Regions from separate parts of the Homo sapiens genome. Here region 2 is linked to region 1. The links come from fine-mapping of genetic effects on gene expression. A gene starts in region 1. The other region holds a variant in brackets. All regions are shown on one strand. Distances are from middle to middle.

Region 1 (4,392 bases):
AGAAGAGGGTGAGAGAGGGAGAGAAGTCAAGATTTGAGGTGATACCCAGGGAAGAGCTAGCTGCTACCCAGTGAGCTCTGCTCAAGTTCCTCAACAATGCAAAAGGAAGATTAGTAGCATTTTGGGAGCTTGGTGAATCAAATAGATTAAGTATGAAAAAAACCCATTTGAATAGGCATGATTAAAAGTCAGTCATATTAATTCGCTAACTCACATAATTTAAGTAAATATGATACTACTTTGGGGTCAGTCTGTGTGATTAGAAAAATTAGACTAGAATCCATATAACCTTTATTCAGATGGCAGAGAAAGCTAGGGGAGGGGGCTGAGCCCCTGACATGTTGAGCAGGCAAAGCTCAAAATATGTGTGACTGGGCACAGGGAATTATGGGGTCAGAAAGTGGAGTCTTCTATGTGGCATGTTTTGGATTTTTCTTCCTCCTTCTGTGTCTAAAATTCTTTATCCACAAGATCTATCCTTATATTTGTAGCACTGGCTCAATTTTTAGGCATAGGTTAAAAGCTCATGACTACAGGAGAAAGAAGAAAGATGGGTGAAGGGGATTGTTTCTCCTATTGAAGATGAAACATTTTTCTCATAGTTTAAATATACAACCTTCCTATGTGTCTTCTCTTTAATGCCAAGTTAGCACAGGTCAAAGAAACAAACATTTAACCTGAAATATATACCACAGATATTTGGAAACTGTTCCTTGGTTTTCTCCCCATTTCAAACATCTACATAAGGTAAAATTTCCTCAATTCCAGGTGGAACCCAAAGCAGCTTGGATGAATACATTATTCTCTATGAGCTTTTTAAGTCACCATAAAATTTCAACAAATTTCAAAAGCAATGCAAAGGAATTGTCAGGGGAGCTGGTAAAAGTGAAGCTACCTGAGTCTCGAGGTTGGAGATTCAGACTCAGTAGAGCACCAGAGGTGATTCGACAGCCCATGGGGAACCATGATCAGAATGAAAGTTATTTTGTCCTCAGCTTTTTCTTTCCCCAACCCCCTGTAGTGCAGTGTATCTTTGGACTGTTGTCACCCATTGGACACTGGCCACTTCTCTTGTTCCTTTCTCATAGCCAAATTAAACTGTTGTTTTAGTTACTATTACAAAGGGCAGTTGAAACAGAAGTTGAATTCCAGCATCACTGGCTAGTGAGACAGTTTGAACTCTTTCCTGTCTACGGTTATTTCGCCTTCCTCTCCCCGTACCCCTTTTCCATCCCTTTGCTCTCTCCTATTTACAGGTGAGGGTAGGGAATGAGGGACCTGAGGTTAAGAGAGCTGGGGAACATAAATCTAAAGAAAGGCACCGAAATGTCACTAACAAAAAATTACATTATTTGTGGGAAAGATGGGAAGATGACTGCGTGTGGAGGGGCCCTTAGCTGGGATATGTTAGGAGTTGTGGTGACAGCCATCTTCCTTCTGACAGCCCAGGAGAGAACCCAGTGCTATCCGAGGTGCTGAACAGAGGACTTCTCGGGGTTCCCGAATTCCCAGGGTTAAAACAAACTTGGTTTGTGCGGCGACACCGCTACCCTTACCGGTCCCCAGATAGTCGCGGATCCCCGAAGCTAAGAGCCAGGGCAGGACTTCAGTCAGTGTTCCAGGAACAGCTGAGACACCCAGGTCACCACGGGCTCGCGCCGCTGCGGCTCCGACCCGGTGCGAACCGCCATACGCGCCGCGCGGTGGGCCGGAGGCAGTCCGCGTACTGTTGCGGAAACTCTGTCTCACAAGGTGCGCAACACTCGCCGCGCGCAACACTCACCAGGAAGTTGATGTCGGCCGGGCGCACTAGGCGGTAGCTGCACGTCGCGCAATCCTGGCTGCATTCGGCCCGCACGGTCGCCAGGAGCCCGGGGCCGAGCAACAGCAGCCAAGTGCAAAGTGTCAGGAACCGCGCCATGGACTGCGAGGAGAGAGGGACGCGTGCTTCGAGCCTGCCTGGGCGCAGAACGGGGTCCCTCGGCAGGACCCTCGCCGCGACAGCCTCAGCAGGGGATCGTCGAGCAAAAGCCCGCAGGAATGCTCCTTTCTGGGGCCCCGCCCTCCCGGCCGACAGCTTTTAGGTAGACGTGGAGGCGACTCAGATCGCCTCGCGGTTCCCGGGATGGCGCGGTCGCCCCCAACGCGAGGCTGCCTGGGGCACCCGGCTCTTTTCCTGGGCGTCCGCGGCCCAGGGCAAGATTCCGGAGAGAACGCCGCAGACCAGGGGCGAGAGAGCGGGAGCCGGGGGAGGCAGGACATTGACTGGGGTCACAAAGAAGAACCAGGGAACGCTGTTGGGGAACCCATGCAATGAAATGTGAAGGGAAAGAGGGCGGGCAGACGTCCCCAAACCCGCTCAGCAAAGACAAGCTTCGGGCAAATTCACTCACGTTGACGCTGTTCGGATGGAGCAGGCCAATTGGAAAAGCCGGGTTCAGACACGACTCTAGAGGGAAGAGAAGAAGGCAAGTGTGAGGAGGGCGGGCGTCGGGGAGAAGCGGGCCCGGGTGTGCTGGCGGACGTAGGGCCTCACCGTCGCGGTCCTCAGCGTCTCTGCGGGGTCACGGGCCAGGCTGCGGGGCTCTGAGCGCCTGCCTCGCCGTCCCGGGGCTTAACGGCTGCTGGAGCCACTTTATAATTAGCCCCAAACCGAAGGAGGCGCGCGCGCCCCAATCGCCGGCGGGCTGCAGCTGACGCAGGCCCTACGCCAGCCCCGCGCCGACGCCTTCGCGGGAGGGGTCGGTCCCCCAGCACCCGCGCGCCGCTCCCCCCGCCGAGCTCGGGTGGGGGCCACAGGGGGCGCTCGGTGGCTCCCCACACGGCCAGGTGACAAACCCAAGGCAGTTAGGAAGTTTGGGGAGAGTGAGATAGGATCAAGTTTCTCCGCATAAAGTCACTGAAATTGCACCGTGGGATGCGGGCTCCAGGGAGGGAAGCGAGGTGGGGGCGTTTGGAAGGATAGATGGACTGGCTTAGACTTCTGGAATGTGCTGGAGACCCAGCGGGCCGGTGAACCTGCCCCTTTCCCGCCTCCTCCCTGGGCCCCCTCGCGGGTCCCCGTGGGCACCAAGCACAGCCGTCCGGAATGTCGTCATTTATTGACCAACCTGTCCCCCACACTTGACTCCGAGTTCCTTACTGCAGCATCTAACAGCGTCAAGGTGCGCAGTTTAGGCGCTCAATTAATGGTTACAGGAACTGAACGATTGAAAGTTTCTGGGAATCTTAAAATCTCAGGACAGAATTTTCACCTTTCCAGTTAGAGACCCTTGGCCAAGCGTAGAAGCAGGTAAACCCTCAGGTTCCGGGACTGCGCGCTTTTCAGCCACTGTGGGAGAGGATCCGTGTTTAACCAGCTCCCCGGGGCTCCCAAGTCGAAGACCTACTGCCTTGAGAGCGCTGTCCAGGGTGTCCGGGGGTGTTGGATCAGTGAGAGGGGGGTGCCGGGGCGGGTGTAATGTCAGCGCGCCAGGAGTGTGGTGGGGAGGGAGGGATGAGGGACACCCTACCCGGGACGCCGGGGCTTGGAACCTCTTCTCCACCGGGAGGGGGCCGAGGGCACACTGTGGAGGCTGGTACTGTCCATTAAGACACGCTTTCCCGCTTCCTGGCTCTGCAAAAGATTGCTAAGCGGCAAGCTGCTTACATTGCCTGAGGCCTCAGTTTCCCTATTTGAAAAATAGGAACAGAGGTAATATGCCATTCATAAGGTTCTGGAGAGAATCAAATGAAATAGTGGACGAAATCTCTTAGCCTTGTGCCTGGCACTATAGCAAGCCCTCAAAACATCTTCTAACCATCCGTCATCCGTCCGTCCACCTTTCCATCTGTGACCATTGTCTGCTTACCTTATAGCTACCATCGATGTATCCAATCCACCTATGCATCTATGTCTCCTAGACCTAGGGGGAAACCATAAACAGTTCCTGGGAAAAGGTCCCAGAGGTTTCCAGGCCCTCTGCGCCCTCTGCAAAGGGCTGATTTCTACAGTCGCTAGGACCTGCAGCGGCGCTGCTCCCGCGGGGCTCCGGCCGCGCTGCATGTCCCATTATAGTCGCTAGAGGGCAGCGCTCTCCTGCGTAGGCTGGGCTTGCGGGGACTGGGGTCTCAGTTCTCCGCAGGCCTCAATGTGCGGGCTTGACACGCAGCCCTCGGATTAGCCCCGAAGCTGCACCCGAGCACCGCCTGCCTCCCGGCCGGGGCATCACGGTAGCAAGGTCGGGAAAGCAGAGCCCTGGAGTGGGGCTGGAGAACCCCGGACATAGCCCTAGGGAGCCAGCATTACCCTCTGAGCAGGAAAACACAATGTTTCCCGCTTTAGGTTCTTTTCATCATGGGGCCCCTTACTAGCTCCTTACTCTCTCCCCAAGGCAAAGGAGAGCTTTTGTC
Region 2 (4,392 bases), 26 kb after region 1:
TGGTCGAAAGCATCTGCACTTGGAAAGTCCTCATTTGTAACATCAATGATAATTGTCTGTAGAATGTCTGAGCCAAGATGGCCTATGAAGCAAGAGAGAGACCTCAAACGTATTAACTGTTTCACACGCTTGAAAACAGACAATTTGTCTTTGACTTGTGAGAAAACCCCCAGCTATTACCGTGCCCATCAGCTTATGTAGAATGGGAAGGTCTAGCGCTACCTGCTTATAAACCCCAGCCAAAGGATTGAGGCCTCCGTCTGATAAGGCTTCATGTGCTTGTCAAATAAAAACGAATTCAGGCCGGGCGTGGTGGCTCATGCCTGTAGTCCCGGCATTGTGGGAGGCTGAGGCAAGAGGACTGCTTGAGCCCAGGAGTTCGGGCTGCAGTGAACTGTGTTTACACCACTGAGATCCAGGCTATGTGAGACAGCGAGACCCTGTCTCAATTAAAAAAAAAAAAAAAAAAGAATTTAGAAGCTGAGAACATAAATGGGCTTGCCTTTCTGTGCATATGTGTGCAAATGTTTGTGTGCATCTGAGTGTGTGTATGTCTGTGTGTGTGATGGGAATAAGGGATAAGATTATTTCCCCCCTCTTATTTAGTTAATGCCAGAAAAGTAAGAGAAAAATTGACTATGCCCGAATTATTTTTTACCTTTTATCTGGAGTATCTGCAATTGAAATACTTGAATGGGACATTCGTCTATATAACCATAGCTTATAGCAGTGGCTTTCCTACAAGAGTGCATTGACATTGACTGGGACACCTGTTAGATAAATGGGCAGATTCTTCAGCCCATGCCCAGGGGCTCTGATGCTGAGACCTGGAGGGGCCCCAGGGTTATGCACTGTGACAGGTCCCCCATATGATTCTCATGCAGTCGAACCATTAGATAGTACTTAGGAAAGGATTGTCTGCAGGAAGAAAACACACAAATGGATGTGGCCTCGACTAATGGCTTAATCTCAGGACCTTAGATCACGTGGCTAAATTGATTGTCCTGAGTGTAACTTTAAAAGTCACACATACAGGCCACACGTGGTGGCTCACACCTGTAATCCCAGCACTTTGGGAGGCTGAGGTGGGTGGATCACCTGAGGTCAGGAGTTTGAGACCAGCCTGACCAACATAGAGAAACCCCATCTCCACTGAAAATACAGTGTTAGCCGGGCATGGTGGTGCATGCCTGTAATCCCAGCTACTCGGGAGGCTGAGGCAGGACAATAGCTTGAACCTGGGAGGCAGAGGTTGCAGTGAGCTGAGATCGTGCCATTGCACTTCAGCCTGGGCAACAAGAGTGAAACTCTGTCACACACACACAAAAAACTCACACATACAGATACACATGCATCATACATGTACACTCCCCTAAATACATCTCATATCATACCCTCTACACCTCACATACCACACCCCAAATACACACCACACACACACACAGCCCACACATGCACACACCACACATGTACACACACACATGCTAAACCACACACATATCACACCATACACAAAGGGACACACACCATACACACACATCACACATACTCACCACATACACATCACACATACACTTACCCCACACATGCACATGCCACACATGCACACACACCACACTCATACACACATACACATCCTCCCCCCACTACACCACATATGTACCATTCCACACACATGCCATACTATGCATATACACATGGATGTGAGCCTTCCTTTTCATTTAAAATACAGGGAAAACACTGCTCTCTATCAAGCAGTGGTATTTTAGAGAGCAGAGGTCTTTTCCTCCAAGTCCGCTCTTGAAGTTCTTAAAAAGAAAGTGCAAGTCCCAGGAATGAGCTCATCTCTGTGTCCTTCCCAGAAGCCGCTTATTCATTGCTGCAGGACAGACTTTACTGTTATTATAATGAAAAGACAAGACAGACTACTCTAAATATCAGTTTAAAATGTTTCTTTTTAAAAACATTCCCACATGTACACGATCTTTTACTTGTTTCATGTTTACTCTGTTTTGGGTTAAGAAATCTGAATGATGTGATGTGTCGTGAGAATAGAAGTGAACAGGATGAAATCGCGTGAACAGGACAATGGGG[G/GGGC]GGTGGTGGTGGAGCCCTCCGCTTTGGGGCTCTGAGGCTTCGGATTGGAACCATCTGGTCCCTGGTCCTAGCTCTGCTACTTGTGGCCTTGGCTAAGGTAGTAACCTCTCCAAGCCTCCTCTACAAAGGGATCATCATCGTAGTACCTCACTCATGGAATTCTAAGGATTAAAATGGAAAGTGCTTACAATAGGGTGAGAAACATACTAAAGACTCTGTAAATGTTTGTTTCTGTTAATAAGCAGAATTATGCCTGGACGTGCTTAAGCTCCCAGACTTTTTCTACACTGCCCTCAGTTATCAATCTCCATTCTGACTACTTCTCAGTGACCAAGAGAAGAGAGGAAAGAGCTGGGAGAATAAGGCTGTGGGGAGGATGAGGCAGAGGGGATATGGGAGGATGAAGAAGCATTCTGGTGCGAGTGCATTGGGATCACTGAGTGTAGCCTGGTCCTCTCTCCTTCCCACCGCAGGACCTGATGATAGATCCCTGATAATTATGGTCTTTCTGGATGGGCCAGGTGGGCAATTTTATTCTTTGTAATCTTCAAAGGTACAAATGAATCAGTTTTATGACTTCTGCTTTACATCAAAATAAATTTCAGATGTCTCAAACATTGAGCAGCTTTGAACGTAACTTGTTTTCTTTTCCTGCATTCAGGAGCCATAAAGTCTAGCCAGGATAAGGCCTCAGACCCAGTTCTTTACAGCAGATATTGTGAAATAGTGACCAGTGCTTGGAACTCGGCCCACACATGGCTCATATAGTATGTTTTAAAGTTTTGAATTGGCTTCCATCATTTAAGAATAAGAGATCTTCCATAAAAATTGAGATTTTCGGCCTGGCGCAGTGGCTCATGCCTGTAATCCCAGCACTTTGGGAGGCCGAGGTGGACAGATCACCTGAGGTCAGGAGTTCAAGACCAGCCTGGCCAACATGGCGAAACCCCATCTCTACTAAAGATACAAAAAATTAGCTGGGCATGGCGACGCATGCCTGTAATCCCAGCTACTTGGGAGGCTGGGGCAGGAGAATTGCTTGAACCTGGGAGGCGGAGGTTGCAGTGAGCCGAGATGGTGCCACTGCACTCCAGCCTGGCTGACAGGGTGAGACTTGATCTCAAAAAAATAAAATAAAATAAAATATTAAAAAAAATTGAGATTTCCAGCTTATTTTGGGAATAAGAACTGGCTTCTGCCCAGGCGTTTGGATGCACAGATGGAGGCCGGATCGCAGGGGCCCTGGGAGGGGCATGGCTCCAGCAGCTCCTGCCCTCTGGTCCACGTGGCTTGCTGGACACATGCTAATCTACTTGGAGCCTTGCATTCTATTGCTGGCTCTAAAAGCTTTATGAAGTGACTGATCTAGAAGGACCATAAAATCTAGAGAAAGGACTTAATCTCTTTGGACTTAATCTCTTTGGACTCAGTTTACTCATTTATAAAATGAGCAAGGACCCTTGCAGTTCTAAAAATCTGCGTTTAGCTATGAACACTGCATTTAGCATGGGGCTGACATGTCAATGTCTAGCTTCACTATTAACCCTCATTTCCCTTCTGCTTCCCTGCCTTCATCTGCATGGACCAGACTACCACTCAGCCCTGAGAGGTCCAGAGCCAGCAAGGATAGGAGAAGCCGCCGTTGAACCCCAATGGTGGTCTCCACTTCACGCTCACTTCATAGTATTTTGGTTGTAGTATTTGATACTAAACTTATTTTTTTGTGCCTGGGAAAGAGTGGGTTCTCAGTAAATATCTATGGAGTCAGTAGATTAATTGGTAGCCAGGTTGGCTTTCCTACTTGCTGGGGCAAATCAGGGAGTGAGGGGCTACTGTTGTCAAGGTTAGATTTTCTCCCATACACCAAAAACCCCCACAATTATTGCACAGCAGATACTTAACAAAGTATAATGAACAAGCACGGATGAGATTGTTTCTCAGTAAGCTGAACTGCCAAACGAGTGAGAAAATGTAGTTTAAGACTGGGGTTCTCTGAAAAAAATACCTCTGCCCTCTCTAAAAGTTAAACTATAGTTTTGGTAGTTTGTGTGGTGCAAATGAAACATTTTATATATGTAAGAAGCAATGGAGCCAGCAAGGATAGGAGAAGCCTCTGTGCAGAGACAGCTGTGGTGGAAGAGTGACTCGAATGTTTAAGTATTATCAAGACTGCTGTGGTAGAAGAATGACATGAATTTTTAATTATTATAGCTTGTTCCTCTGTGAACTAAATGATGGATTCTAAGTGCATGGAAATGAGATACAAACCTGACCCTTAAACAACAGCCAATGGAATAG

Direction of the effects. Positions count from the first base shown, and alleles are read on the strand shown. Sizes are in standard deviations (SD) of each study's normalised expression.
With allele GGGC in place of G in region 2, the expression in fibroblasts of the gene that starts at base 2,609 in region 1 is lower (moderate effect, 0.42 SD a copy in GTEx).

The links. PIP is the estimated chance that this variant, and not a neighbour inherited with it, causes the effect.
Region 2: its variant is fine-mapped to the expression of PENK in fibroblasts (GTEx, PIP above 0.99).

What each region holds. Positions count from the first base shown.
Region 1 is chr8:56,444,033-56,448,424 of GRCh38, forward strand. PENK (proenkephalin) reads right to left here and starts at 2,609. Exons shown (of 4, transcript NM_001135690.3): 1 at 2,537-2,609; 2 at 2,394-2,449; 3 at 1,784-1,924. The coding sequence starts at 1,921. It overlaps PENK-AS1 (PENK antisense RNA 1), which reads left to right and starts at 1,775. Exons shown (of 4, transcript NR_125813.1): 1 at 1,775-2,468. RefSeq lists an enhancer at 1,380-2,271.
Region 2 is chr8:56,469,934-56,474,325 of GRCh38, forward strand. The region is part of intron 1 of PENK-AS1 (PENK antisense RNA 1); the gene reads left to right. Among named protein-coding and RNA genes, the nearest start is that of PENK, 25 kb to the left of the region's middle. The variant G/GGGC (reference allele first, on the strand shown) is at 2,095.